3 linked regions of the Homo sapiens genome follow. The protein of the gene in region 2 purifies or fractionates together with the protein of the main gene of each other region. This does not show direct contact. Each region holds a gene or a part of one and is shown on either strand. Other genes may lie near its edges.

Evidence for each region.
Region 1: the proteins of RAD51C (region 2) and KLHL10 purify together in Homo sapiens (affinity purification with mass spectrometry; 2 studies listed by BioGRID and IntAct, with this or other methods). This does not show direct contact.
Region 3: the proteins of RAD51C (region 2) and PTPN9 purify together in Homo sapiens (affinity purification with mass spectrometry; 2 studies listed by BioGRID and IntAct, with this or other methods). This does not show direct contact.

Annotation. Positions count from the first base shown.
Region 1 is NC_000017.11:41,832,323-41,842,363, reverse strand, and holds the start of KLHL10 (kelch-like protein 10), read right to left. Parts: upstream 4,540-10,041; 5' UTR 4,432-4,539; coding exon 4,238-4,431; intron 542-4,237; coding exon 52-541; intron 1-51. Other genes in the region: NT5C3B (7-methylguanosine phosphate-specific 5'-nucleotidase), read left to right, coding at 6,171-6,182, 6,407-6,505, 7,092-7,161, 7,248-7,294, 9,887-9,972. UniProt on the Homo sapiens protein: May be a substrate-specific adapter of a CUL3-based E3 ubiquitin-protein ligase complex which mediates the ubiquitination and subsequent proteasomal degradation of target proteins during spermatogenesis.
Region 2 is NC_000017.11:58,684,874-58,695,898, forward strand, and holds the start of RAD51C (DNA repair protein RAD51 homolog 3), read left to right. Parts: upstream 1-7,728; 5' UTR 7,729-7,770; coding exon 7,771-7,915; intron 7,916-7,923; exon of another isoform or gene 7,924-8,086; intron 8,087-10,057; coding exon 10,058-10,316; coding exon of another isoform or gene 10,317-10,320; exon of another isoform or gene 10,321-10,507; intron 10,508-11,025. UniProt on the Homo sapiens protein: Essential for the homologous recombination (HR) pathway of DNA repair. Involved in the homologous recombination repair (HRR) pathway of double-stranded DNA breaks arising during DNA replication or induced by DNA-damaging agents.
Region 3 is NC_000015.10:75,567,188-75,577,292, reverse strand, and holds part of PTPN9 (tyrosine-protein phosphatase non-receptor type 9), read left to right. Parts: intron 1-10,105. UniProt on the Homo sapiens protein: Protein-tyrosine phosphatase that could participate in the transfer of hydrophobic ligands or in functions of the Golgi apparatus.

The sequences.
Region 1 (10,041 bases), about 17 Mb from region 2:
TGCTTTTAGGACAATCTCTCTGTGATAAATGAATCAAGAGTGAACACTGACCTTAGGAAGCAAAATTGAAATGTGCTGCTTTCTATTTTGGGGGTCATGAGAAATCCACTTTAAAATGGCCTCAAATACAGCATCTTCCTGTTTGACATTGAGCTCATCTTTCTCAATGATATCCTTAAGTTCAGTGACCGAGAGCTCTAAAAATTCTGCCGAGACTTTCACCATCTCCTCAAAGTTGTGCAGTATGAACATGTAGGCCTTCTGCCTCAGCTCAGGACAGTAGTAGTAGTCCGTGAACTTACAGATGCCGATACAATTATCCAAGCACAGCTCTGACTTGAGGAACTCGCAGCAACCCCTGACGATACCCATGATGTTAAACTGGTCTGCAGCAGCAAGCAGTTTCTCCACATTGTCCGGTGTGATAGGCACGGTCCGGGTGTATGCATACTCAATGATTAGCTTCATCATGTCGGGAGAAATGCCAGGGATGTTGTATACCTTCTTTTCAGTGTTGTTCCAGCCACTTGTAAACAAAGCTCTGGAAAAAAGAAAGAAACTAGCAGCCACGGAAACATTTCTCTCCTGTTAGGTGAGTACATTGGAAATGGTCTGAGAAAGTGGGGTGCAGGCATGTGCTATATACAGTGGACAAGAAGAACACCTTTCCAAGAACTCTGACTTTGGTCACTCTTACCTTGTGGATGGAGAAATTAAGATCTAGAACTGAGAGTAAGACCCAGGTCTCTTGGGCCAGGCGTGGTGGCTCACGCCTATAATCTCAGCACTTTGGGAGGCCGAAGCGGGTGGATCATGAGGTCAGGAGTTCAAGACCAGCCTGGCCAACGTGGTGAAACCCCGTCTCTACTAAAAATACAAAAATTAGCTGGGCATGGTGGCACATGCCTGTAGTCCCAGCTACTTGGGAGGCTGAGGCAGGAGAATCGCTTAAACCTGGGAGGCGGAGGTTGCAGTGAGCCAAGATCATGACACTACACTCCAGCCTGGGGGACACAGCGAGACTCTGTCTGAAAAAATAAAAATAAAATGGCCACTCACTGCTTTTTATCTTCCTTTTCTTATTTTCCCAGGCATTTATGATGATTTGATATGCATTTTACTCATTTAATGCCTGTTTCCCCATCCAGGGGGTAAACTTCATGAGAACAGGAATGCTTCTCTTTTTATTAATTGTTTTCTTTTCTTTTTTTCTTTTTTTTTTTGGAAACAGGGTCTTGCTCTGTCACCCAGGGTAGAGTGCAATGGCATGATCTTGGCTCACTGCAACCTCCAACTCCAGAGTGCAAGCAATTTTCCTGCCTCAGCCTCTTGAGTAGCTGGGATTATAGGTGTGTGCCACCACGCTCAACTGATTTTTGTATTTTTTAGTAGAGATGCGATTTCACCATGTTGGCCAGGCTGGTTTCATCATATTGGTCAGGCTTGTCTCGCACTCCTGACCTCAGGTGATCTGCCTGCCTCGGCCTCCCAAAGTGCTGGGATTACACGGGTGAGCCACCATGCCCGGCTTTTGCTTCCTTTTTTTAAGAAGTTTAAGGAAATGTGGTCTTAGAAATCAAATTCTTCCTCTAGAGCAGGGGTCTGCAAACCTATGGACTCTGTCCAAATTTGGCCCACCTCTTGTTTTCATGCTGCCCACAAATTAAGAATGATTTTTACATTTTAAATGGCTGGAGGAAAAAATCTTTTTTTTTTTTTTGAGATGGAGTCTCGCTCTGTCACCCAGGCTGGAGTGCAGTGGCTTGATCTTGGCTCAGTGCAACCTCTGCCTCCCAGGTTCAAGCAATTCTCTGCCTCAGCCTCCCGAGTAGCTGGGATTATAGGTGCCCACCACCATGCCCGGCTTTTTGTATTTATGCCCGGTTTTTTGTATTTTTAGTAGAAATGGGATTTCACCATCTTGGCCAGGCTGGTCTTGAATTCCTGATCTCATGATCCACCCACCTCAGCCTCCCAAATTATTGGGATTCCAGGCGTGAGCCACTGCGCCCCGCTGGTTGGGGGAAAAAATCAAAAGAATATTCTGTGACACCTGAAAATTATAATACATTTAAATTTCAGTGTCCATAAATAATCTTATTGGAATACAGCCACACCCATTCATTTAGTATTGTCTAAGGCTGCTTTTGCAGTATAAAAACAGAGTAGTTGCAACAGACTGTGTGGCCTGCAAAAACCTAAAACAATTACTATTTGGTCTATTTCTGGACTCAGCTGAGCGCGTTGGCTCACGCCTGTAATCCCAGCACTCTGGGAGGCTGAGGCAGGCGGATCACCTGAAGTCAGGAGTTCAAGACCAGCCTGGCCAACATAGTGAAACCTGTAACCCCAGCTACTCGGGAGGCTGAGGCAGGAGAATTGCTTGAACTTGGGAGGCAGAGGTTGCAGTGAGCAGAGATCATGCCATTGCATTCCAGCCTGGGTGACAAGAACAAAACTCCATTTCAAAAAAAAAAAGAAAAATTAGCCAGATGTGGTGGCACACAGCTGTAATCCCAGATATTCGGGAGGCTGAGGCAGGAGAATCGCTTGAACCTGAGAGGTGGAGGTTGCAGTGAGCTGAGATTGTGCCACTGCACTCCAGCCTGGGTGACAGAGCAAGACTCCATCTCAAAAAAATAAAAATAAAAAATAAATTGTGGACTCTGCTCTGTGGTCTACCTGAATGAGAAGTTTTAGCAACAGGTAGGACACATTGATCATATCTTCATTGGAATTGATTACTCAAACATTTTCAGCTCATGAACAAAATAGCCCTTCTACCTCCTGGGTTACAATGGTTTTAGCCCAAACTCCCTTTTTCTTCTGATATTTCCTGGGTATTTCCCCCTCATCTCCCTTCCCATCCCCTTAATCCTTGTTAATTTATCACCCTGTTTGAAATGGTCTCTATTGGGATAGGGGTACAGGGGGGTCCCTGAAGTGGCATTGTCATCTGAAATCCAGTAGGGATGTCCAACCTTCCCAAAGGTTGGTTTGGGTGAGAATCAAAGATTAAAGCACCTGGCCCACCAATAGTTGGTTGAAATCCAGTTGAAAAATCAGACCTTAAAGGCTGGGTGCAGTGGCTCATGCCTGTAATCCCAGCACTTTGGGAGACCAAGGTGGGTGGATCACGAAGTCAGGTGTTCGAGACCAGACTGACCAACATGGTGAAACCCCGTCTCTACTAAAAACACAAAAATTAGCTGGGCATGGTGGCGGGAGCCTGTAATTCCAGCTACTCGGGAGGCTGAGACAGAAGAATCGCTTGAGCCTGGGAGGCAGCGGTTGCAGTGAGCCGAGATCACGCCACTGCATTCCAGCCTGGGGGACAAAGCGAGACTCCATCTTAAAAAAAGAAAAATTGTATCTTGCCAGGCGCGGTGGCTAATGCCTGTAATCCTAGCACTTTGGGAGGTCAAGACGGGCAGATCACCTGAGGTCAGGAGTTTGAGACCAGCCTGAGCGACATGGCAAAACCCTGTCTCTACTAAAAATACAAAAATTAGCCGGGCGTGGTGTCAGGCGCCTGTAATCCCAGCTACTTGAGAGGCTGAGGTGGGAGAATGGATTGAACTGGGGAGGCGGAGTTTGCAGTGAGCCGAGATGGCGCCATTGCACTCCAGCCTGGGTAACAGAATGAGACTCATCTCAAAAAAAAAAGACAAAAATCAGATCTCTCAAGAGCAAAAGGAAAAAAAAAAACAAAACAAACAAAAAAAAAAAAGAGAGAAAAAAGGCCCTGACCCTAGTCATGCCTCTTCAGAAGGCAAAGGAGCCAGGCAGGAGCTCCTGCCTGGACCAGAGTTGGCCAGGCACAGTGGTAATCCCAGCACTTTGGGAGACTGAGGCAGGAGGATCGCTTTGGGCCAGGAGTTCAAGACCAGCCTGGGCAACATAGCGAGACTCCCTCTCTACAGAACATTTCAAAAGTAGCCGGACGTAGCAGCATGTGCCTGTAGACCTAGCTACTTGGGAGGCTGGAGTAGGTGGATTGTTTGAGCCCAGCAGTTGAAGGCTGCAGTGAGCTATGATTGCATCACTACACTCCAGCCTGGGTGAAAGAATGAGAGCTTATCTCTAAAAAAAAAATTTTTTTTTAATTTTTAAGGAGCCCAGAGCTTTGACAGTGTCCCTAAAGTTAAGGTGATGGGGTGGGAAACAGAAAATGGATCAAAGTGTCTCAAAATGAGCCCAATTACCCCTTTGGCTGAATTTGGCAACCCTGTTATACCTAAAGTAGGAACTGCAGCTACAGAGGATGTTCTTATGGGCACTGAACTCAAAGCCATTGACCTTGATGACCACGTCGCAGAGCTTGCCCTCTAGTCTAAGCTCGTTGAAGATCTCACAGGCCATCGCACTCATCTTCCTCTCCATGTGAGGCTGGTGGAAACGTGTGGAGGCCGCCGCGCTCTCCATCTCCATGGCACCCTGGGACAGCGGAGAGAGGCTGCTTTCCTAGGGTGTCGGGGAGGGTTGTGGGGGGCCCCTTTAGCCAGCTGTCGCTCCTTTTCCCTACTACATCTTTTGTATAGGGTCTATCAGGCAACCCAAGTTCCAGAATCCTGGCCCTGCAGTGAGATCACACAGGATTGTGCTCTCAGGTTCTGGAACTGCCTCCTGGACTTGTCCTCTTCCTTCTCCCCTCCTTACCACCCCACTTAGGCTGAAAACCACCTCACACCTCCTTCTGTGTCCTTGAACCCAAAACAGAACCATGACCACTAGCACCATCTGAGTGTTTATTGATTCCAGCTCCTGTTACTCACCTGATACAGGTCTCTATCCCTGGAGCATTCATCTACCTTCCACAGCCCAACACTTGGCTCCCTAGACACCGAACTCAAGGAAATCCAAGTCAATTGAGGCTGAAGGGAGAAGTAAAACTGATTAAATTTCTTTCTTAGGCCGGGCGCAGTGGCTCACACCTGTAATCCCAGCACGAGGTGGATGGATCACAAGGTCAAGAGATCAAGGCCATCCTGGCCAACATGGTGAAACCTCGTCTCTACTAAAAATACAAAAATTAGCTGGGCGTGGTGGCACATGCCTGTAGTCCCAGCTACTTGGGAGGCTGAGGCAGGAGAATCGCTTCAACCCAGGAGATGGAGGTTGTAGTGAGCCGAGATCGCTCCACTGCACTCCAGCCTGGCGACAGAGTGAGACTCCATCTCAAAAAAAAAATCTTTCTTTTTCTAGGGACGGGTCTCGCTCTCTCACCCAGGCTGGAGTGCAGTGGTGTGATCATAACTCACTACAGCCTCGACCTCCTGGGCTTAAGTGATCCTCCCACCTCAGCCTCCTGAATAGCTGGGATTACAAGTGCTCCGCACCGTGCCCAGCCAACGCTGATTACATTTCAGAAAGCTGTCCCGGGTCTCCCAGCCCGCTGGATGGGTTAGTCACTCAGTTTCTTCTGGAATGAGGAATGGCCTAGTTAACAGAGCCCTTTCTGGGTGATTAACAGAATTCAGTTTATGGCTCCTTCATCTCTCCTCCCATCCAGCCGTGTGGTTTTTCTGTTTTTGTTTCTGAGACAGGGTGTCATCTGTCACCCAGGGTGGAGTGCAGTGGTATGATCTCGGCCTACTGGAGCCTGGATCTCCCGGGCTCAAGTGATCCTCGTGCCTCAGCCTCCCGAGTAGCTGGGACTACAACAGGTGCGTGTCACCATGCCCGGCTAATTTTTGTATTTTTTGTAGAGACAGGGTTTCGTCATATTGCCCAGGCTGGTCTCGAACTCTTCGGCTCAAGCGATCATCCTGCCTCGGCCTCCCAAAGTCCTGGGATTACAGGTATGGGCCACCGCGCCCAGCCCCAGTCATGTTTTTGTCACAAACTTTCAGCCTGGAAATGACCACGTTTGGCAAGGCTTTTCCTCCACAAAGAGTGGCAGAACCCTACCTACCCACGTAACCCCAACACCTTGGGACCTTCACCCTGCTCTTCATAATAAATAGAACCCTCCTCCAGTTTGCCTAGCGCAACCGGCAAGCCCACCCGGATCGCGGCCATCTCCGGGACCGCTCGATTCTCGGCCCCACCCCCGCCCCGCCCCCGGCCCCACCAACCCCCGCCCGGGCTCCAGGCGGGAGGCGACGCCTGCGCAGTGCGGTCGCGGGGCTGTCGTTGTCCCGCGAGCCGCCGACCAGGCCTCGAACGGGATGGCAGAGGAGGTGAGGAGGGAGGAAGCGTCCGGAGTGGGGCGGGCCCGGACTCCGACCCCCGGGGCGCTTCGAGCCCCCCAGCTGGTCACCGAGGCACCGCCGCTTCACCCAGGCCAGTAGCCGCCCCCTCGCGCACCCCGGCCCCGCCTCACACGCGCGCCCGAGCGAGCCCCGGGCTCCCCTCGGGCCCAGCGTGGCGCAGGGGTCAGTGGTTCTCTCGGGTCTCGGGACAGGTGAGCACCCTGATGAAGGCCACGGTCCTGATGCGGCAGCCTGGGCGGGTGCAGGAGATCGTGGGCGCCCTCCGCAAGGGCGGCGGAGACCGGTTACAGGTACCTCTGGGGCGTGCGGGGGCCGGCCGGGCTGGGGGCGGCTGGAGAGGCTTCCTGCCCATTGGGCCTTCCCGCTTTGCTCTGCCGCGGACCCCTCCTAGCTCTCTGCCCCAAGAAATGGCCGGGAGCTTGAAGGAGAGCGGGTTGGTTCGCCTGTCCTAAAACCCAAATTTCAGATTTCTCAATATGGTCATGCTGCTTCCTCTAATTGGACAGAAGGCGCCCACACCAGTACCTAGGGCCTTATCCTCCCCAAGCCAGCGGCTCCCCAGTAAGTTGAAGATGTCCAGATGGGCCGTAATGGTAGAGATCTCTTAGGAGGGACCTGATATTGAAGGAGTCAGAGGGGTCCTGAGTATTCACCCTTGCCCCCACACTAGGAGACTGCGTTTTCCTCAGGGTTAACGGGTACTAATTAGGATCACTTCCCCTCTATCCCTCTGTGTCACTCGGTAACTCCCCTAGGGCTTTGCCTACATCCTGGCCACTGAGCTGTATTGATTTCCATAATCATCCCCCAGGCTGAGGCAGGGCCACACTAGAATTCTGGTGCCTATTTAGGCATCATCTCTCTTTTGCCTTATAGGTGATTTCTGATTTTGACATGACCTTGAGCAGGTTTGCATATAATGGAAAGCGATGCCCTTCTTCTTACAGTAAGTCACATTCTAGCTTCCCTTGTTGAGCTTGACAAGACGATGGGTTCTAAGGGACAAGTAAAAGGAGTTTTCTCTTTTTCCAGATATTCTGGATAATAGCAAGATCATCAGTGAGGAGTGTCGGAAAGAGGTGGGTTGCTCCCGTCCTTTGCTCAGAAATGGTTGTCATTTGCTACTTCAAATGGTTCCTGATTGGAACCAAAGATTCCAGTATAGAGACCTTAGAAAATTAATTTTTAAAAACTTGTTGTTTTGCTAAGGAGGGTCTAGTTTTAATACATTAAGACAGCTTTTCCTTACTGGCCAGGACATATGATGATTAATGGTTGGAACTGGACATTATATTTACTGTTGGCTATAGAGTTTACAAGAGATTTGAACATTCTGGAGGTTCAGCAACTTACCCAGGGTCATACAGCCAAATGGCAGAGCTTGTTTGTTTGTTTGTTTTGAGACAGGGTCTCACTCTATCACCCAGGCTGGAGTGCAATGGCTTGATCTTTGTTCACTGCAGCCTTGACCTCCTAGGCTCAAGTGATCCTCCTGCCTCAGCCCTACTGAGTAGCTGGAACTACAAGCATGTAACATTACACCTAGCTAATTTTAAAAATTTTTTGTAGAGATGGGGTCTCACTATGTTGCCTAGGTTGGTCTTGAACTCCTGAGCTCAAGCAATCCTCCTTCCTCAGCCTCCCCAAAGTGCTGGGCTTATAGGCATGAGCTACCACACCTGGCCTTTTTAAAAGAAAATTTATATTCTTCTGTTGGGTTCTAGTGTGTGTGTGTGTGTGTGTGTGTGTGTGTGTATTTTTTTTTTTGAGACAGAGTCTTGCTCTATGGCCCAGGCTGGAGTGGCATAATCTCAGCTCACTGCAACCTCGGTTCAAGCAATTCTCATGCCTCAGCCTCTCGAGTAGCTGGGATTACCAGCATGCATCACCATGCCCGGCTAATTTTTGTATTTTTAGTAGAGACGAGGTTTCTCCATGTTGGTCAGGCTGATCTCGAACTCCCAACCTCAGGTGATCCGCCCGCCTTGGCCTCCCAAAGTGCTGAGATTACAGGCATGAGCCATCTTGCCCAGCCTGATTTTTAGAGAAAGGTTCTCACTCCAAAAAAACACACAGATTGAGAATCTTAATACATTTCAGAAGTTTTCTGCCTTTGTTACTATGTCATCTTTCATTTAATCTTCTTTTGAACAGATGGACAGGGATTCCATTTGATCTTGTAATGTTCCTGAGAATCATGCATGTATTAAAATTCTTTACTTGGTCAATTCTCATTTTTACTAGGCACTGTTACGGACTGGCTCTGTGTAACACATGATCCCTGGAACAGCCCCTTTAGAGTGTCAAAGTCTTGGCACATAGAAGGAAACCTTAGAGGAAACACACATAGATGCTGTGCATTCACATGATATTGACACTTTTGACGGAATTGTCCACCAACATGCTGTGTCCCAAAGTACAGTCTTCTAGTTATATTTCATTTTTTTTGCCATATCTGTATATCACCTTTACTAAATCTTTCTCTAAATTGGCCTGCTTTTAAAAATTGTAATTAACTTATAAAGAAACAGGCCGGGTGTGGTGGTTCACGCCTGTAATCCCAGCATTTCTGGGAGGCTGAGGCGGGCAGATCGGTTGAGGTCAGGAGATCGAGACCAGCCTGGACAACATGGCAAAACCCTGTCTCTACTAAAAATACAAAAAATTAGCTGGGCGTAGTGGTGCCTGCCTGTAATCCCAGCTACTCGGGAGGCTGAGGCAGAAGAATTGCTCGAACCCGGGAGGCGGAGGTTGCAGTGAGCCGAGATTGCGCCACTGCACTCCAGCCTGGGCAACAGAGTGAGACTTGTCTCAAAAAAAAAAAAAATTGTACATGAAAATGAATCCAAAACTTCTGAGTTGAAAAGCGCTTCTCCATGAATTCCCTAAAGTTTTCTTACCTATCACCTGAGAAAGTGGACCACATTCTGGGAAACACAGCATTAAGTAAGTTCTTACTGGTTAAGCCCTGAAAATTGAGCTAATTAATAACAGCAAAAAAATCTTAGTACCCTTCTTCTCTGATAGTAAAATCTCATATTGCTGACTTTTAGACCTCACTCTCAGGGTGAGTACAAAGGAATGACCAGCTCTGTGGATCCAGGTGCTCCCTGGACTTCACCAAATGGGTAAAAATGTGAGTGTATTGAGCGATTATGTTGGAAGATAATATGAGAAGAGAAACTTAGGTCTTATAAATGACATGTCCCCAAAGGAAAACTTGAAGAAAATTTCATGTAACACTCTCTTAGATGAAGTTGCATCTTCTTTTTATTTGAGACACAGTTTTACTCTGTGGCCCAGGCTGGAGTGCAGTGGTGTGATCTCGTCTTGGCTCACTGCAACCTCCGCCTCCTGGGTTCAAACGATTCTCATTTTTCAGCCTCCTGAGTAGCTGGGATTAAAGGCGCATGCCACTACACCGGCTAATTTTTGTATTTTTTAGTAGAGACAGGGTTTCGCCATGTTGGCCAGGCTGGACTCGAACTCCTGACCTCAAGTGATCCACCTGCCTCAGCCTCCTAAAGCACTGGGATTGCAGGTGTGAGCCACCGCCCCTGGCCATGAAGTTGCCTCTTCTAGGTGACTTTTTTCTCATACTAAGCTGTAGGACGTTGCTGGGAAGAACTTGATATGGACTAATGGCCTTTCTCCCCATTTGGATATCCCAGCTCACAGCGCTCCTTCACCACTATTACCCAATTGAGATCGACCCACACCGGACCGTCAAGGAGAAGCTACCTCATATGGTGGAATGGTGAGTGATGGTGGTGGAGAAAAGCTTCTGGGCCCTTGAGATGGAGTAGGCTGGGAGGGGCATATTTTT
Region 2 (11,025 bases):
GCTGTGGCATAAGAATTGCTTGAACCCTCAAGACAGAGGTTGCAGCAAGCAGAAATCATGCCTAGGTGACAGAGCAAAACTCAGTCCCCCAAAAAATCATATAAATAGTCAAATGTTGAAGGAATGGATGGTTAGAAAATAAAATTAAAAATTAAAAAAGATTCAAATGTAGATCTAAACCATATGTAGAAATAATACGAATGAAAAATCCATTTATAATTTTGTATAGACCTTCTAAACATGTTACCAAAGTCAGAATACAAAAATTGAATACATTAGATTTGGCCTAGTTTTGAAGGACCTGTTTTGAAGCACGTTGGGAGGCCGAGGTGGGTGGATCACCTGAGGTCAGGAGTTCAAGATCAGCCTGGCCAACATGGTGAAACACCGTCTCTACTAAAAAAATACAAAAATTAGCTGAGTGTGGTGGTGCACACCTGTAATCCCAGCTACTCAGGAGGCTGAGGCAGGACAATCGCTTGAACGTGGGAGGTGGAGGTTGCAGTGAGCCGAGATCACACCACCGCACTCCAGCCTGGGCAGCAGAGTAAGACTCGGTGTCAAAAAAAAAAAAAAAGAATGTCAGATTTGACAGATAAATAGTAGTTAATTAGGTGAAGGAGGGAGAGGTAATATTATAGACATATGCAAACACTGTTGAGGGATGAGGTCTAGCACACACAAGGAACTAAGAAAAGGCCAAAGTAGCAGGAGTATAGGAAGCAAATGGGAAAGAGGAAAAGGAAGAAGGTAAAGAGGAAAAACAGGGGCCAAAACATGCAAGCTTTTTTTAAGCCTTATTAAGAAATTTGGTCTTTATCCTAAGAGCAAAATAAGGCGAGGTGCGGTGCCTCATGCCTGTAATCCCAGCAGTTTGGGAGGCTGAGGTGGGTGGATCACCTGAGGTCAGGAGTTCAAGATCAGCCTGGCCAACATGGTGAAACACCATCTCTACTAAAAAAAATACAAAAATTAGCTGGGTGTGGTGGTGTGCACCTGTAATCCCAGCTACTCAGGAGGTTGAGGCAGGACAATCGCCTGAACATGGGAGGTGGAGGTTGCAGTGAGCCGAGATCACACCACCGCACTCCAGCCTGGGCGACAGGGCAAGACTCTGTCTCACAAAAAAAAAAAAAAAAAAAAGATCAAAATAAGGAGTGACATAACTGAAATGTACTGTAAAAAGATCATGCCAGGAGGATCATGGTGGCTCGCACCTGTAATCCCAGAACTTTGGGAGGCCGAGGAGTCCTTGTGACCAGGAGTTCAAAACCAGTCTGGGCAACACCTTGTCTTTACAAAAATTTTTAAAAATTAGCTAGGCACGGTGGCATGTGCCTGTTAGTCTCAGCTTCTTAGGAGGCAAAGGCAGAAGGATCTCTTTCTTGAGCCCAGGAGTTCAAGGTTGCAGTGAGATATGATTATGCAGAGTGAAAGGGAAGGAGGTGTCAAGGATGATTCTAGGTTTATGGCTTATGCAAATGGAAGGATGGATATGTGGTTCATGGAGGCAGGAAATGCAGGAAGAGGGCAAGGTTCTGGGAATGGGGTGAAGGTAATGAGTTAGGCTGAGTTGGAGGAGACTTTGAATTGTCCAGTAGGCAATTAGATATTTGCATCTGGACGGCAGAGGGTCAGGGCTAGAAATACAAATTTGAGAGTCACTGCCATGCCCAGGTTATGGAGGATGTGCTTGCAAAGCAAACAGAAAAGCCAAATATGTAGAAAGGAAATCAGAAGTGTGGCATTAAAAAAGCCAAGTAAGAGAATGTTTCAAAGAGTCGTGGACAACAAATACATATTGGGCTTCTATTATGTATAAGGTCCTGTAAAATTGATACTGCTAGTATATATGTCTGAGGCCTTAAAGAAGCTTTATCATAACCACCTCTAAAGCTATGCCTTTATTCAGAGGTTTTTCTCCTCAGTCTGAACAACATTGACTTCTTTCTCCTATTCCCAAACCCACTTGAACATGAAAGGTCACCTTTTTTTTTTTTTTTTTTTTTTTTTTTTTTGAGATGCAGTCTCGCTCAATCACCCACCCTAGAGCGCAGGGGAGGGATCTCAGCTCACAGCAACCTCCATCTTTGGGGTTCAGGAGATTCTCCTGCCTCAGTCTCCCGAGTAGCTGGGATTACAGATGCCCACCACCACACCTGTAGGGAGCTGAAGGCCCATGGGATGTGACCAACTCAGCATTCCACTGGAGGCTCTATGATCAAACACCAAACTGTTAATCATGAATGCAGGATGTGAGCAAACTCACGACTGCTCCTGCTGACAGAAGATTTGCTGGAGGCAATCACTCCCTGGCACTGAGGTTATCCACTGCGACATCTAGAGAATGCGGTCTTGCAAGCCTACTCTGGACTCAGCAGCTGACCCCTTCTCCCACCTCCCTTCTCACTATCTCTTTTACCTAATAAATACAGAAGGCTGTGTAAAGCTCAGGGCCCTTGTCCACTAGAGGCAAGGTACCCCCTGACCCCTTCTTCCAAATATACTCTTTTGTCTCGTCTTTTATTCCCGCATTTGCCCTCCTTTGTTCAGCCCATAGGTCCGTGCGGGTTACAGAGTGGTGCCCTGATCAGCAACAGAATCGGGTGCTCTACCCACACCTGCCTAAGTTTTGTATTTTTAATAGAGACAGGGTTTCACCATGTTGGCCAGGCTGGTCTTGAACTCATCTCAAGTGATCCACCCACCTAAGCCTCCCAAAATGCTGGGATTACAGGTGTGAGCCACTGCACCCGGCCGTGGTCACCATTTTTTAAAGTTCTATGTTCTTAGGCTAAAAAAAAAATAAACTTCTCCCCAGCTATAACAAAAATTTCATATTATTCCTCTCCTATGTCTCCAGAAACAGCCTAGTCAACCTGAAAATGTCTCGTTATTGGAATACTCTGACAGGTTAACTATAGACATTAACAGCAATAGGTCCTTCCTACCCTTAGAATTACATCAAGATAGCTACACAAGTCAGAAATGCAACATGTCAGAAATACTCAATAAAGATCCTGATAGATTATAAGCTCCATGAGGGCAGAGAATCTATCTTGTTTACCCTGTCATCTGGCACATAACTAGCATTTAATCAATATTTAATCTTGTTTTAGTGATCTAGTCTTCAGAGTGCTAATCCTGAATGTAGACCCCAGTCATAGGATTACTGTGGATCAAGTCAAAGAAAATAAAATATATAAAAGTACTCTACTTCGGCACTTTTACAATTATAGACTTTTTTTGTTTTGTTTTGTTTTTGAGACTGAGTTTTCCTCTTGTCGCCCAGGCTGGAGTACAGTGTCATAATATCGGCTCACTGCAATCTCTGCCTCCCATGTTCCAGCAATTCTCCTGCCTCAGCCTTCCAAATAGCTGGGACTATAGGTACCCTCCACCACCCCCAGTTAATTTTGTATTTTTAGTAGAGACGGGGTTTTACCACATCGCCCAGGCTGGTCTTGAACTCCTGACCTCAAGTGATCTGCCAGCCTCAGCCTCCTAAAGTGATGGGATTACAGGTGTGAGCCACAGTGTCTGGCCTAATTGTAAACATTTTTAAAAAACGTCTCAGCATTAGCATTCTGCTGAGCTAGGTATTCTATAAGGATTTATTCCAACTGAATATGCGCATTAGAATGCTGTAAAAACTGAGAAACAGACTCAGATTTATTATGTACTTTTTTGTGTGATAAGTACTGTATATGTGTTAATTTAATCTTGACCAAAACCCCAGGAGATATTATCTTCTACTTGCAGGTGAGGAGACTGAGTAACTTGCTGAAGGTCACATAGTTGGTAACTTCCAGACATGTGATACAAATCCAAATCTGTGTGACTCCGCAGCCCATGCTGGTTTGCCCATAGCAATGTCTCTCAAATTTTTTCATGAAGTAACCTCAAGTTGCAAGAAAAACCAAAACATATTCCCGGGGGGGGTTTGGGAGATTACTGAAGTATCCAGTTTAAGCCTGATGTGTCTCTGACCTCATACTTTTCTCTTAAATTTTATTTTTATATTTGCATTTTACCCCCACATTTTGTTTTTATTTCTATACATATATTTTTTTTTGAGATGGAGTCTCGCTCTGTCACAGAGGCTGGAGTGCAGTGGCATGATCTTGGCTCACTGCAAGCTCTGCCTCCCGGGTTCACACCATTCTCCTGCCTCAGCCTCCCAAGTAGCTGGGACTACAGGTGCCTGCCACCACACCCGGCTAATTTTTTGTATTTTTAGTAGAGATGGGGTTTCACCGTGTTAGCCAGGATAGTCTATCTCCTGATCTCGTGATCCGCCCACCTCGGCCTCCCAAAGTGCTGTGAAACAGGCGTGAGACATCACGCTCAGCTAATTTATTTATTTTTAGAGGGAGTCTCTCTCTGTTTCCAGGCTAGAGTGCAGTGGCCTGATCTCACTCACTGCAACCTCTGCCTCCTGGGTTCAAGCTATTCTCCTGCCTCAGCCTCCTAAGTAGCTGGGACTATAGGCACACATCAACATGCCCAGCTAATTTTTGTGTTTTTAGTAGAGACAGGGTTTCGTCATGTTGGCCAGGATGGTCTTGATCTCTTGACCTCATGATCCACCCGCCTTGGCCTCCCAAAGTGCTAGGATTACAGGAGTGAGCCACCGTGCCCGGCCTACCCCATGTTTTATTAAAGTTTATTTTCTTTTTCAAAAATTTTAATGATTTATCCACACTACACAGATGTAATGTCTGCTTAATATAAACCATTTCAAATGACTTAGGTAAATCATTTAACTCTTCCCTCCCTGAAAGATTTTTTTTGAGAAAAGTGATTACACAAGAAGGTGCACCTTCCATATTTATCCCATAGCTTTGTTTAGTTCCTAGTGCGTGGTTTCAAAAACCTGGATCCCAGTTTGAAAGCATGACTACAGAGCAAATTGCATTAAAGACATCTTAAGAATGATGATGAAAATAATTATTATAGGCAAGGGCCAGAAGATTTTTTTTTTTTTTTTTTCTGAGATGGAGTCTCGCTCTGTCGCCCAGGCTGGAATGTGGTGGCGTGATCTAGGCTCACTGCAAGCTCCGCCTCCTGGGTTCATGCAATTCTCCTGCCTCAGCCTCCCGAGTAGCTGGGACTACAGGCGCCCACCACCGCACCCAGCTAATTTTTTGTATTTTTAGTAGAGACGGGGTTTCATCATGTTAGCCAGGATGGTCTCGATCTCCTGACCTTGTGATCTGCAGAAGATATTAATAGCACTTAAATTATACAGCTATAGATAGAGTTGAGTGGGGGTTTTTTTGTTTTTTTTATTTTGCTTTGTTTTGTTTTTGAGATGGAGTCTCGCTCTGTCGCCCAGATTGGAGTGGAGTTACGCAATCTCAGCTCACTGCAACCTCAACCTCCCGGGCTCAATTGGTTCTCCCACCTCAGCCTCCCAAGTAGCTGGGACTAGAGGCATGTACCACCATGCTGGCTAATTTTTGTATTTTTTGTAGAGATGGGGTTTTGCCCTGTTGCCCAGGCTGGTCTCAAACTCCTGAGATCAAGCGATGTGCCCTCTTTGGCCTCCCAAAGTGCTTGGATTCCAGGCTTAAGCCACTGTGCCAGGCCAAAGTAGTTTTGAACTTTCCACTGTCAACGAAAGAAATTCTAAACACGACTGATTCCACTGAGTTTGACCAAACTAACTGAAGACTTATTGTTGAATGTGGTAATACCATGTTTTTTCTTCACCCAAGAATCTGGGTGCTTTATAAGCATAAGCATGAAATCTCCCTGAAGATAGTATTTATGCATCCACTGAGCGCTCAAATATAGACCATATTAGAAGTTAAGCAATGGGTTGAGTGGCCAACCACATTTTGGCCAGTCCTACAAGACTTTCTTTGACCTACCAAATGGGGTATAAATGCTTCTCGTATTCTCCCCGCCAGTAGGGACTCAAAATCTTAATAGCTCGGGGTAGTAAAAAGGATGCTAGGTTTGAATCTTGGCTTTAAGAAAACTGTGCTGAGGTGTTTTGTTTGTTTGAGACAGGGTTTCACTCTATCACCCAAGCTGGAGTGCAGTGGCGTGATCATAGCTCACTCCCAGGCTGAAGGGATCCTCCCACCACAGACTTCTGAGTAGCTGGGACGACCGGTGCATGCCACCATGCCCGGCTAATTTTTTGTACTTTTGGTACAGACAGTGTTTCGCCATGTTGTCGAGGCTGGTCTCAAACTCATGAGCTCAAAGAGATCCACCTGCCTCGACCTCCCAAAGTGCTGGGATTACAGGCACGAGCCACTGCGCCCGGCCAGCTTTTTTTCTTTTATCAGAATTGATATTAAACTATATGCTGAGCTTCCATGTCCTTATCTTCCTTTTGGCATGGCTATGGCCATTTGAAATGTGTGGGATTTGCTAAAGTGCTCAACATACGTTGTTTCCTTTTTTAGATCTAAGTATGTAGAGGGCTCTGATTTGCAATATTTAGAAAGTTCTTCTAAGCTGGGAAGAAAAGTCAAGACTAAGAATCATTGCCAACAGGGCCGGGCGCGGTGGCTCACGCCTGTACTCCCAGCATTTTGGGAGGCCGAGGCAGGCGGATCACGAGGTCAGGAGTTCGAGACCAGCCTGGCCAATATGGTGAAACCCCTTCTCTAATAATAATACAAAAATTAGCCGGGCATGGTGGCGTGCGCCTGTAATCCCAGGTACTCAAGAGGCTGAGGCAGGAGACTCACTTGAACCCGGGAGGCGAAGGTTGCAGTGAGCCGACATCGTGCCACTGCACTCCATCATGGGCAACACAGTGAGACTCTGTCTCAAAAAAAAAAAAAAAAAAATCGCCAATAGGTAGGGAATAAGTTACCCCCTGCTAAATAAGTTACACTCACCTAGGCAAGGAAGGAACTCATAAACCACCTTCTAAACTGCTTGCCTTCCTCCCCGAAGTTCTGTAATTTAGAGGCGGTCACTACCACTGCTTGAACACCCCTTCCCAAGTCTGTACCACAAAAGGAGCTCTTGTGTAGCCCAGCCCCTCCTTCTCAGGACCCCAGGAGCCCAGACACACTAATGGGGACATTAGTTGCTTACTTTTCCAGCTACTGCTTAAGCTAGGCAGGCCATGAAGAAATAACGGTCTCAGTAACCTCCATGCTCGGGATACGACTCCCGGGAAGACGTGGGTGGGTGCGGGGAATGCGGACTGATCCCTCCCAGCGGCCGTTGGGGGCTGGCCCACAATCCCTCGCGAGGGCGGGAAAAGCAATGTGGTCGTTGCGGGGGGGGGGGGTCAGAAAAGGGGGACGGTCAGCGGGAAGAGCCAAGAGACTGCAACTCTACAAAGAGCACGCAGATTAATTCTAATGATTGTTCCCTGAGCTTTTCACACCAAAATAATGGTAACTGGCTAGTGTGTGCCCGTTACGCTCACTACTCCCACTCGAGATCATTCCTATTAATGACTCTGAGGCTTCACCTAACAGGCCACGGTGGAGGCAAGGAAATGTGGCGTGGAGAACCCACTGGGCCTGGCTCTCCGTCCTATGGTCTCCGTCCATCGTTTTACAGTCAGGGTGTACATTTGATGAGGAATCTCTAAATGGGATTTTGGGGAATCAAAACGGAATGGTGCATAAGTGTGAAAATTTACAAGACTGCGCAAAGCTGCAAGGCCCGGAGCCCCGTGCGGCCAGGCCGCAGAGCCGGCCCCTTCCGCTTTACGTCTGACGTCACGCCGCACGCCCCAGCGAGGGCGTGCGGAGTTTGGCTGCTCCGGGGTTAGCAGGTGAGCCTGCGATGCGCGGGAAGACGTTCCGCTTTGAAATGCAGCGGGATTTGGTGAGTTTCCCGCTGTCTCCAGCGGTGCGGGTGAAGCTGGTGTCTGCGGGGTTCCAGACTGCTGAGGAACTCCTAGAGGTGAAACCCTCCGAGCTTAGCAAAGGTAACGACTCCTGATGGCAAGCTGAGGCACACCGGCCGCCGTCAGCGCCGCCTCAGTCTTCGTTCTCTCGCCTCGGCCTTCAGCCCAGTCTCCGTTAGATTCTGCTTCCTCCCACGTCCATGTTTACAGCGTGAAAGAGCTCCTCGACTCCACTTACAAGTTGTCTGAATGGTTAGGAGAACTGTGGTCGTGAAAACATTTACTAATTGCTTTTCCTCTGGCAATGCCTGCTGAATGCTTTGAGGATTGTCTCATTTAACCCTCAACCCGCTTACGTAGATTATTATATTCAGTATATGGATGAGAGAACTGATATCTTGGGGAGCTTAGGTAACTTTTCATGCTAACTGGGTTAGGAAATACTGGAGTCAGAATTGGTTGTCTAATTTTTGCTGTTCCAAGATCCAAGGGGTAAGGGTTAAATTTCAGAAATGCAGGATTTTGTGTAGGACTAGAGACACTAAGAATGAGAAAGAGAGTAGAATCCCCGGAATCTTGAGGAAGCATAGAAAGAATATTCTCTTACGTAATTAACTGAAACACCCAAAACCTCATATTCCAGAGCATTGCAGATGGGAACCACTGCATCCTGAGACATACAAATATGAGGCTGGCGGTGGTCACTTGTTGTGCACATCTCTCTATGACATGTCTGGACCTGTGCTATTCACTGAAGAAGATGGAACAGAATTTTAAGTTACTGCCCTTACTGATGGAAAATACAGAGGTTTCAATTCGCCTCTAAAGAATAAGTCTCGTGGACCCAGCCTTAACTGTTTAAGTCATACCGCGCGCAGACTGTGTCCCCCAAGATTTGATGGGCTCTTTTTTCTTCAACAAGTTGGCTTTTCAAAGAAGAAATGTGAGACCCTGAATAATAATGATCACTAACAACTATTGACTACTTTAGATGGTCTTGATATTCTACCAAGCTTTTTACATGTATCGTCTCATTCCCATTTTATAGACGAAAAAAATCTGAGCAAAAAAGAAAAAGTGAAGTAACTTGCCCAAAGTCATGCAGTAAGTGGTGCCAGGATTTACAAACCCAGGCAATCTAATTCCAGCATTCAGGCTCTTGATAGGATTTTCATTTCCTAAATGCTGTCATCACCATTGTCTTTTATTAGCCCCATATTTATGGCTCATATTCTTATCAGATCAAGCACTGATATATCAAACTGATAAGTGATGTCATCCTCACCATTATTTCTTCACCAGCTTGTTTTGTAATTGCCATTTTCTTTTCTCAGGCCACACTGTCAGATGGGTGAAATTGTGTAGTCGAGGAAGCATAAATGTATTCTTTAAAATGCTTGTGCCTTGAATAATTGTTCTCATTAGTTTGGAGTGATACATGAATTTTTTACATCAGTTATTTCCATGAAAAGTTTTTATTATAAATAATACATGCATATGTGCTTCTTAAAGTTGTACCTTGTTTTAGGCAGTTAAAACATCTATTTTCATTCTCATCTGAAAAATAATTTGTATACCTTATGAGAGCGAGATAATTATGGCTTCATAAGACCAAAAGGGATAGTAAAAATATGGTAATAGTGAGTACATTTTTATTTCTGCTTCCTGAGACACTTGTAGGTACTCAGAAATGCTTTAGTTGAATTGTTTCTGAGGTAATAGGTAATTCTTTATGTGATGACTAAGAAAACGAATACCTTTATTAAGCTGAATTTTTTTTTTTTTTTTTTTGAGACGGAGTCTCGCACTGTCATCCAGGCTGGAATGCAGTGGTGCGATCCAGGCTGGAGTGCAGTGGTGCAGGTTCAAGTGATTGTCCTGCCTCAGCCTCCCAAGTAGCTGGAATTATAACGCGTGCCACCATGCCCGGCTAATTTTTGTATTTTTAGTAGAGACGGAGTTTCACCATGTTGGCCAGGCTGGTCTTCAACTCCTGACCTCAGGTGATCTGGCTGCCTCAGCCTCCCAAAGTACTGGGATTTTAGGCATGAGCCACTGTGTCCGGCCAAACTGAAAAATTAAATGGTTGATAGAATGTTGCATTTTTATGTTTCTCCACTCCTAGCATCACTGTTGTCTACAAATTAATAAAGACAATCGATTATCATGTTACACTTTTAAATCTCTAAAATTAGGGTTCTTTTTTTCTTATTTTACTTTCAGAAGTTGGGATATCTAAAGCAGAAGCCTTAGAAACTCTGCAAATTATCAGAAGAGAATGTCTCACAAATAAACCAAGATATGCTGGTACATCTGAGTCACACAAGAAGTGTACAGCACTGGAACTTCTTGAGCAGGAGCATACCCAGGGCTTCATAATCACCTTCTGTTCAGCACTAGATGATATTCTTGGGGGTGGAGTGCCCTTAATGAAAACAACAGAAATTTGTGGTGCACCAGGTGTTGGAAAAACACAATTATGGTAAAATAAAGTGTTCTCCTTTTAAGGGTGGGTTTAATAACATATTATGAAAGTAGTATTTTGTACTATCGTCAGGAAACCAAATAAGATATATATGTGCTCTTAATTTTAAGTGTGTATGTGCATTAAACAAAAATTAGCTTACTATTTGTGTTACTTCATTATCCCTTCTTGATAAATGTATGCAATTATTCTGATGTGAAAAAGTGTTTCTTTTGCAAATTGTACTGCAGTCATAAGGTTAAACAGGAAGTTTCTGCGTTATTCATTCCTGAGACTATATTTGAAAGTCAGATGTTTGAAAGTAGATTTATGGCTAGGGGTAGTGGCTCATGCCTATAATCCCAGCACTTTGGGAGGCCGAGGCAGGAGGATTGCTTGAGCCCAGGAGTTTGAGGCCTGCCTGGGCAACATAGTGAGACCTCGTCTCTACTAAAAATGGAAAATTAGCTGAGTGTGGTGGCACATGCCTGTGGTCCTAGCTACTTGGGAGGCTGAGGCAGGAGGATAGCTTGAGCCGGGGAGGTCAAAACTGCAGTGAGCCTTAATCACATCACTGGGCAGCAGAGTGAGACCCTATCTCAAAAAAAAAAGAGGCCGGGGATGGTGGCTCACACCTGTAATCCCAGCACTTTGGGAGGCTGAGGCGGGTGGATCACCTGAGATCAGGAGTTCAAGACCAGCCTAGTCAACATGGCGAAACCCCATC
Region 3 (10,105 bases), on a different chromosome or scaffold from region 2:
CTTGGGTCAGTCAGATTTCTGTTTTTAAGACTTAAAGCCATCAGTATTCTATGCAAATAGCATCCGTTGCAAATTTGAAAACTAAAACCAGGAAAAGTAAATATTAAAGTATTGATAGTATTGACATGGTATTGGCTTTACTTTGTACATAGTGCATACACATATATACAGATGTGTTTAACTAGTAAAAACCTTATCTTTTACCCTGAATTGAATGTGATGGGCATTAACAAGGACTAGGATGGAAACGGCAAAATGTTTATTAAAGTCAAGAGATTGTGTGTGTGTGTGTTTTTAAAATCTTATCTCTTTTTTCTACAAAATATTATTTTTTTACAAGCATTTCAAAATATTGAAACAAAAGCAGTATAGTTCTAATTATGGTAATGCCTAATGTTACCATATTTTAGTTTAATATCACATAAGAGTACTCTCTTTTTTTTTGAGATGGAGTTTTGATTTTTTGTTTGTTTGTTTGTTTTTTTGAGACAGAGCCTCGCCCTGTCATCTAGGCTGGAGTGCAGTGGCCTGATCTTGGCTCACTGCAACCTCTGCCTCCAGGGTTCAAACGATTCTCCTGCCTCAGCCTCCCGAGCAGCTGGGATTACAGGCGCCTGCCACCATGCCCAGCTAATTTTTGTATTTTTAGTAGACGCGGGGTTTCACCATGTTGGCCAGGCTGGTCTTGAACTCCTGACCTCATGATCTGCCCGCCTCGTCCTCCAAAAGTGCTGGGATTACAGTCGTGAGTTACTGCGCCTGGCCGGAGTTTGGGTTTTGTTGCCCAGACTGGAGTACAATGGCGTGATCTCGGCTCACTGCAACCTCCATCTGCCGGGTTCAAGCGATTCTCCTGCCTCAGCCTCCTGAGTATCTGGGATTACAGGTACCCACCATGCCCAGCTAATTTTTGTATTTTTAGTAGAGATGGGGTTTCACCGTGTTGGCCAGGCTAGTCTCATCATACTCCTGGCCTCAGGTGATCCACCCGCCTTGGCCTCCCAAAGTGTTGGGATCACAGGTGTGAGCCACTGCACACAGCCAGAAGTACCCTTTTGTTTTTTAACTGAGTCTTGCTCTGTTGCCAGGCTGAAGTGTAGCGTTGTGATCTCGGCTCACTGCAAACTCTGCCTCCCTGATTCAAGCGATTCTCCTGCCTCAGCCTCCCAAGTAGCTGTGACTTCAGGCGTGCGTGCCACCATGCCCAGCTAAGTTTTGTATTTTTACTAGAGACGGGGTTTCACCATGTTGGAGGATGGTCTCGATTTCTTGACCTCGTGATCCACCCGCCTTGGCCTCCCAAAATGCTGGGATTACAGGCCTGGGCCGCTGTGCCCAGCCAAGAGTACTCTTTTTTTTTTTTTTTTTTTTTTTGAGATGGAGTCTTGCTCTGTTGCCCAGGCTGGAGTGCAGTGGCGCAATCTCGGCTCACTGCAAGCTCCACCTCCTGGGTTCATGCCATTCTTCTGTCTCAGCCTCCCGAGTAGCTGGGACTACAGGCGCCCGCCACCACGCCTGGCTAATTTTTCATATTTTTAGTAGAGACGGGGTTTCCCCATGTTAGCCAGGATGGTCTCGATCTCCTGACCTCATGATCCACCCGCCTTGGCCTCCCAAAGTGCTGGGATTACAGGCGTGAACCACCGCGCCCAGCCAAGGGTACTCTTAAGATTTATTTAAAATATTAAAATTAAACAGCAGTACATAAGTGTTAGCCTTATCAAAGTGGTCCTCATGGGAACTGACACATTCACTCCGTAATGCTGCCCTATTGCTCAAACCAATTTAACATTTATTTGGAGTTGATTTAGAAGCTTGTGGCAGAATCTTTGAAATTTCTTCAGTGTAGGAAAATCCTTGTACTTTTGAGAGTCAGTTTGATTTCTGTAAATAGCAAAAAATCTTTTAGAGCCTTATTTAAAGTAGGGGATCAAATTCGGTTTACACATTTTCATGCAAAAGTGTAGTGCAGTTAGGCCCTTTTTGGCCTGTGTGAACAGCCTTAAAGATATTTCTTTTCGGCCGGGCGCGGTGGCTCACGCCTGTAATCCCAGCACTTTGGGAGGCAGAGGCGGGCGGATCATGAGGTCAGGAGATCGAGACCATCCTGGCTAACACAGTGAAACCCCGCCTCTACTAAAAATACAAAAAATTAGCCGGGCGTCGTGGCGGGCGCCTGTAGTCCCAGCTACTCGGGAGGCTGAGGCAGGAGAATGGCGTGAACCCGGGAGGCGGAGCTTGCAGTGAGCCGAGATCCCGCCGACAGAGCGAGACTCCGTCTCCTCTGTCTCAAAAAAAAAAAAAAAAAAAGATATTTCTTTTCTTTCTTTCTTTTTTTTTTTTTTTTTTTGAGACAGAGTTTTGCTCTTGTTGCCCAGGCTGGAATGCAATGGCGTGATCTTGGCTCATTGCAACCTCTGCCTCCCGGGTTCGAGCAATTCTCTTGCTTCAGCCACCCTAGTAGCTGGGATTACAGGCGCCCGCCACCACACCCAGCTAAGTTTTTGTATTTTTAGTAGAGATGGGGTTTCACTACATTAGCTAGGCTGGTCTCGAACTCCTGACCTCAGGCAATTCACCCACCTCAGCCTCCCAAAGTGCTGGGATTACAGGCGTGAGCCACCGCGCCTGGCTCCTTAAAAATATTTCTGAAGCAGAATACCTCCTGAGTGGTATCTCCTTCTGTACAGTCATATGAATCAGAAACCCAGAAGTCTTGGACACTGCTGTCCCTCTGCCCTTGTGTACAATACAGTGTTAGATTTTCCTGAATATCTCTTGAATTCATTGGCTTCCTTCCACCATCACTGCCATCACCCTATTCGAAGCTACTATCCTATCCTGACAGGACTTTTGTTTCCCACCTGGTCCATCCATATTCCAGAATCCAGAAGCCAGAGTCCTGTTGAAAATCTGATTTCATCTTCCCCTCAGCCTGCCTGCCCCGCAAAGAAGCATTCATAAAACTCTTTAGTGGCTTCTGGTTGCCTTTTTTTTTTTTTTTTGTGGAGACAGGATCTCACTTTGTCACCCAGGCTGGAGTCCAGTGGTGTAATCACGGCTCATTACAGCCTCAACCTCCTGGGTTCAAGCCGTCCTCCTGCCTCAGCCTCCCAAAGCCTTAGGATTACAGGCCTTGTCATTGCTCTTGAGATCAAATTGCAACTTTTGAATGTAGGCTATATATCTAGGCCCTTGAGCAGCCTAGGCCCTAGCTAGTTCTCACACTTGTCTCTGCTCCATGCACACTGGCCTTATAGTCCTGCCTTCTTTCCTTGTTTCCTCCTGCTTACAGGGTCTTTGCAGGAGCTGCTTTCCTCCATCTGGAAACACCCCCCTTTGTTAACCTCCTCTTCATCCTTCAGCTCTCAGGTTTCACCTCCTTGGAAGGCCTTCCTTGATTTCAGTTAGATTAGATTCTAACCTAATAGGTTCTCAGAGCACCATTTACCTGTCATTCACATCACTTATCACAAGTTAACACTTATTTGTGTGATTACATGACTGCAAGCAAGCTCTATGAGGGTTGGGATTATTTTCGCTTTTGCTCCCCATCATATGCACATTGCCTAGCATAATGACTGACATAATGACTGGCACTTACGGAAATACTTGCAGAATGAATGAAGAGTAGTTGTACTCTTGATTTGTATACAGGCAGCATCATCTTCTTTCAGAGTGGCTTAAAAATAAGCACATTACATATTTTGATTTTTTTCCCCATCAAATGGCAATATATACTTTGATTTATATGCTGTGTATGCATTGATATAGTTTTTGAAAGTCATGATTACTTAGTCTCATTTTCTGTCTAGGCATGTGTTGAACGGATACAAATCCTCATTTGTAACTTTGGTGTTTCTTGTTTTTCAGCTCCTCAATAATTATAAAGCCTACAATTGGGCTACGAGGACAAATATGATGTTTTTGCTTTTAAGGAGCTTATATGAATAACAATCGTAACAGTATCTTTTCTAAACTCCTGCTTTCAGTCAGGCTCTGTGGTGGGCATTTCACATGCAATTAATCGTCCCTCCCAAGATTGGAATTACTACCCTCACTTTGCAAATAAGAAAACTCAGACTGAGAGAAGGAAATTGCCCAAGGTCACATAGTTAACAAGTGATGTAGCCATGATTTCCACCCAGGTCTAGGTTTTCTGCCTTCACTGCCAGTGTTTCCTCTTTTACACTACATTACTTCCCATGAAGCCATTAGCCAATTTACTTAGGTGCCTAAGTGGGTATAAAATAGCTAATTTTGTGGGTTTTGGTATTGATATATGTGTTTGGTTTTGTTAATGCTTCTTAAAATATAGTTTGAAAAGTACAGATGAAAAGATACAGAAAACCTTTACTCAGCTGTGTATTGCCAGAGGAAACATACTGTATACTCTGTGCAAGAAATTATGATGAAATTACTATAGGAAAAAAATTTGTTCCTTAAAACAGAGTTGTCAACTCTCCATTTCAAGGTGTGGTCACAACTACAATAAAATTTTATTTTCTTTATATCTTCTTGTTCTTTTGCACAAGAAGGCTTGTGAAAGCCTTTCTTTTTCTTTCTTTCTTTTTTTCTTTTTTTTTGAGACAGAGTCTCGCTCTGTCGCCCAGGCTGGAGCGCAGTCTCAGCCCACTGCAACCTCCGCCTTCTGGGTTCAAGCGATTCTCCTGTCTCAGCCTCTCGAGTAGCTGGGACTACAGGCATGCACCATCACACCCGACTAATTTTTGTATTTTCTTTTTAGTAGAGATGGGGTTTCACCATGTTGGCTAGTCTGGTCTCCAACTCCTGATCTCAAGTGATCAGCCTGCCTTGGCCTCCCCAAGTGCTCGGATTACAGGCATGAGCCACCATGCCTGGCCGTAAAAGCCTTTCTTAATGGGCTGGCAGTTTGGCAGTGTGAAGGACAATTTCTACATATAAGTATTAATCTTCATTGTCATTATGTTATTGTGTTTTGAGACGGAGTCTTGCTTTGTTGCCCAGGCTGTGGGCAGTGGCACGATCTCAGCTCACTGCAACCTTTGCCTCCTGGGTTCAAGCGATTCTCATGCCTTGGCCTCCCGAGTAGCTGGGATTACAGGCACCTGCCACCACGCCTGGCTTATTTTTGTATTTTTAGTAGAGATGGGATTTCACCATGTTGCCCATGCTGGTCTTGAACTCTTGACCTTAGGTAATCCACGTGCCTCAGCAGCCCAAAGTGCTGGGATTACAGGTGTGAGCCATCTCACCCTGCCAAGACTCTTAACTAGAACTCTCACTAGATTAAAATTCTGTATAATTATAGCTGTTCAGGGTATTTTGGTTTTGCATGGATATCCCAGTGATGATTGATAGGATAATAGAGTAGTTTTCGAAAGTACTTATGTTTCTGTTAATAGTTTTATTTTTATTTTTTATTTAGTTTTTTGAGACGGAGTCTTGCTCTGTCACCAGGCTGGAGCACAATGGCACAACCTCCACCTCCTGTGTTCAAGCGATTCTCCTACCTCAGCCTCCCAAGCAGCTGGGACTGCTGGCATGCACCACCATGCCTGGCCAATTTTTATATTTTAGTAGAGATGGGGTTTCACCATGTTGGCCATGATGGTCTCTATATCCTGACCTCGTGATCCACCTGCCTCTGCCTCCCAAAGTGCTGGGATTACAAGCGTGAGCCACCACCAATTTATTTTATTTCATTTTTTAAATAATAGAGATAAGGTGTCACTATGTTGCCCAGGCTGGTCTTGAACTCCAGGGCTCAAGCAGTCTACCCACCTTGGCCTCCCAAAATGCTGGGAGTACAGGCGTGAGCCACCACGCCCAGCCTGAAAATTATTATTATTTTTGTTTCTTTTTTTATTTTAATTTTATGTTTTTTCTTTTTTTGAAAATTCTTAAAGTTTATGTTATTTAGACCTTACAATGTTGTGAGGATTAATAAGGAGATGCATGTAGAGCACTTAGCCCAATGCTTATATAATAAGTAGTCAGAAAAGTTAGCCATTATTATGATATTCATCATTGTTTTTTGTTTTTTTCTTTTTGAGACAGTCTTGTTCTGTCACCTAGACTAGAGTGCAGTGGCATGATCTCGGCTCACTGCAACCGCCGCCTCCCGGGTTCAAGCAATTCTCCTGCCTCAGCCTCCCTAGTAGCTGGGATTACAGGTGCCCGCCACCATACCTGGCTAATTTTTGTATTTTTAGTAGAGACGGGGTTTCGCCATGTTGGCCAGGCTGGTCTCAAACTCCTGACCTCAGGTGATCAACCTGCCTTGGTCTCCCAGAGTGCTGGGATTACAGGCATGAGCTACCGTGCCCGTCCTCATCGTTTTTGAATAGCGAAAAATTTTAGAACCATGTTAGCTTAAGCCAATTACAAGGGGAAAAAATATTCATATCCACCCTGGGGACCATCACCTAGTACAGGTTCTTATGAATTCCAGAAAATTATTATCTTGCATTTTTATAGTGTAGTTTTTAAAAGCCTATTCTAATTGTATGGTGTGGTTTTTGCTTTTTTTTTTGGAGACAGGATCTTACTCTGTCACCCAGGCTGGAATGCAGTGGCATGATCATAACTCATTGCAGCCTCGACCTCCCAGCCTCCCAGGATCAAGTGATCCTTCCACCTCGCCTCCCGGGTTCCTGGGACTACAGGCATGCTACCACACATGACTAATTTGTTATATTTTTTGTAGAGGGGGGTTTTACCATGTTGCCCAGGCTGGTCACGAACTCCTAAGCTCAAGCAATCCTCCTGCCTCGGCCTCCCAAAGTGTTGGGATTACAGGCATGAGCCACTGTGCCCAGTCTGGTTTGGATTTTTGTAATGGAATCTTTTAAAGCTAAAAATTTAACTGCTTTAGCGTGGACTTCAGAGATCTTTGGCATTTTTCCCAAAGGCAAGGGTTTTGTCCCATTTCTTGCGGCCAAGAACTTCCCTTTTCCCACAGTCTTACATGTCCTGTGCTAAATGTCATCTGTCTCCCTGGAAGTTACCATACGTCAAGGACCAAATGATTTATGATGTTAAATTGAGGTCTTCTACAGAGACAAAGAAGGAAGGAAAGGTGAAGAACTCTTATTATTTTCATTATTGCTGATAGTTTATGATACTGTAAGTAACAATTAGGTAAAACCTCATTTGGATGTGAGAATTTTGCTGTATTAAAAATTTCTGGTTGGGTGTGGTGTGGCTCATGCCTGTAATCCCAGCACTTTGGGAGGCCGAGGCGGGTGGATCACAAGGTCAAGAGATCAAGACCATCCTGGCCAACATGATGAAATCCCGTCTCTAGTAAAGATACAAAAATTAGCTGGGAGTGGTGGCGCTCACCTGTAGTCCCAGCTACTCGGGAGGCTGAGGCAGGAGAATTGCTTGAACCGGGAGGCAGGGGTTGCTGTGAGCTGAGATCGCGCCACTGCCCTCCAGCCTGGTGACAAAGCGAGAATCCATCTCAAAAAAAAAATTCTGAGCACAAGGGTCTTGGACTTTAGTTTTGTGAATATTAAGTGGCCTGGAGGTTTTCTCTAAGGAACCCAACCTAGTACTTATGAATGAATTGAAAAGACCCTCCTTTAGAAAGGAGCTGAACTGTTTTTTTTTTTTTTTTTTTGAGATGGAGTTTCACTCTTGTCACTATCTCCGCTCACTGCAACCTCCGCCTCCTGGGTTCAAGCGATTTTCCAGCCTCAGCCTCCCAAGTAGCTGGGATTACAGGTGCCCGCCACCACGCCCAGCTAATTTTTGTATTTTTTGTAGAGATGGGGTTTCAGCTTATTGGCCAGGCTGCTCTTGAACTCCTGACCTCAGGTGATCAGCCCGCCTCGGCCTCTCAAAGTGCTGGGATTACAGGCGTGAGCCACCATGCCTGGCCAGGAGCTAAACTGTTTTAAAGAGGTAAAAGTTAAGACTCATTGTGAGTATATTTTAGTTTCATTTTCTGACTTTTATGCCTTTATTGTCTTGGAAAAGACATAGTAATTTTGGAGTACTTAAACTTTATTTTCTAAATATTAAGCCCCATTTTACGGCAGTGTGGCTGGTCCATTGCAGTGCCAAGATTAGAAGTCATAGAACCTAACCCTGATTATTTGTTCAGATACAACCTCTAGTGTAATATCAGCCATTTCACTGCTTCTGTCTACCATCCTGCCTTGGTATATCAGACAATTCTCGTACTTTCTTTTTCCTAATCAATTATTTTAACATTTTCCCCCTAAGCACACCTCCATGCGAGATCTTGGTTGCTCTTCCTGACCACTAAAATAACCACTGTTTTCTATTCCTATTCTTCTAGAATAAGGGAAGATGTTCCTAGAAAAGGTAGTTTAGCCTACACTTCTCAGTGCTGGAGGGCCTGGCATCAGCCCTTTTATATCTGATTTTGAAAAGGCCCCTTAGGAACCTAACCGAGTTAGCTTCTTAAGCGTTTGGTTCACTTTTTAAAATTTTTTTAGTAAGAGACAGGGTCTTGTTCTGTTGCCCAGGCTGAAGTGCAGTGGCTTGATCCTAGCTCGCTGCAGCCTGAAACTCCTGGTCCCAAGTGGTCCTCCTTCCTCAGCCTCTATAGTGGCTGGAACTACAAGCATGTACCACCATGCCTGGCACATTTTTTTTTTTTTCTAAAGAGATGGGGGTATTGCTTTCTTGCCTAGGCTGGTCCCGAACTCTTGTGTTCAAGCAGTCTTCCAGCCTCGGCCTCCCAAAGTGCTAGGATTACAGACATGAGCCACTGTGTCCATCCAGCATTAGGTTGTTTTTTTTTTGTTTTGTTTTTTTTTTTTTTTTTGAGACAAGGTCTCACTCTGTCACCCAGACTGGAGTGCAGTGGCATGATCATGGCTTGCTGAAGCCTTGACCTCCCTGGCCCAAGGAATCCTCCTACCTCAGCCTCCCAAGAAGCTGGGACTAAAAGCGTGCACCACCACACCACCATGCCCAGTTAGATTTTTTATTTTTTATTTGTTGTAGAGACAGGGTCTCGTTCTGTTGCCCAGGCTGGTCTTAAACTCCTAGGCTCAAGTGATCCTCCAGCCTCGGCCTCCCAAAGTGCTGGGATTACAGCCATGAGCCACTGCACCTGGCTGGCATTAGGTTGTTAAACATGGACATGGAGGGTGCGAACAGGAGGCAGAGAAGCTCCAGAACTCATGGGAAACCTTATTTATTAAGGATTGCTGATCTCTTAGGTCCAAACTATAAAATGGTAAGACCGAAACAGTAGATTAGAGATGATTTTTCTCTTTAATTTATGCTTCTGAGATAAGCATTTCAGTTTTTGTTTTCTTTTTTTTTTTTTTTGAGACGGAGTCTCGCTGTGTCGCCCAGGCTGGAGTGCAGTGGCACAATCTCGGCTCACTGCAAGCTCCACCTCCCGGGTTAATGCCATTCTCTTGCCTCAGTCTCCTGAGTAGCTGGGACTACAGGCGCCTGCCACCACGCCCGGCTAATTTTTTGTATTTTTAATAGAGACAGGGTTTCACCGTGTTAGTCAGGACGGTATTGATCTCCTGACCTTGTGATCCACCCACCTCGGCCTCCCAAAGTGCTGGGATTACAGGCGTGAGCCACCGCGCCTGGCAGCATTTCATTTTTCCTTTGGGAAAGGCCGTTTCTGTAGTATGTACCAGTTTCCTCTGAAATACCAAATCCATCCACAACATACCGGCACAGTACTTGTCACTTTTTTCAGTGTAGGTAGCACAGGTAAGTTTATTGAATTATTCTGAAGCCAGAATTTATTTCTACAGTAATTTCTGGGCAGGTTCTAAAAAAGTCATCTGTGACTTTAGGACTGAAGTGTTTGGGGATGTTCATCCATTAGTTACTTGTTCATTGCTTGAACACCTAGCTAATCTTTACCTTTGCATTTGTTTTGATGTGAATCATTATTACAGATACACGTCATTATGATAATATGATGATATTCATTATATACATCATTATTACAACCAATCTTTTAAAAAATGGGCTATTTAAGGCTGGGCGCGGTGACTCACGCCTGTAATCCCAGCACTTTGGGAGGCCAAGGCAGTCGGATCACCTGAGGTCAGGAGTTCAAGACCAGCCTGGCCAACATGGCAAAACCCCGTCTCTACTAAAAATACAA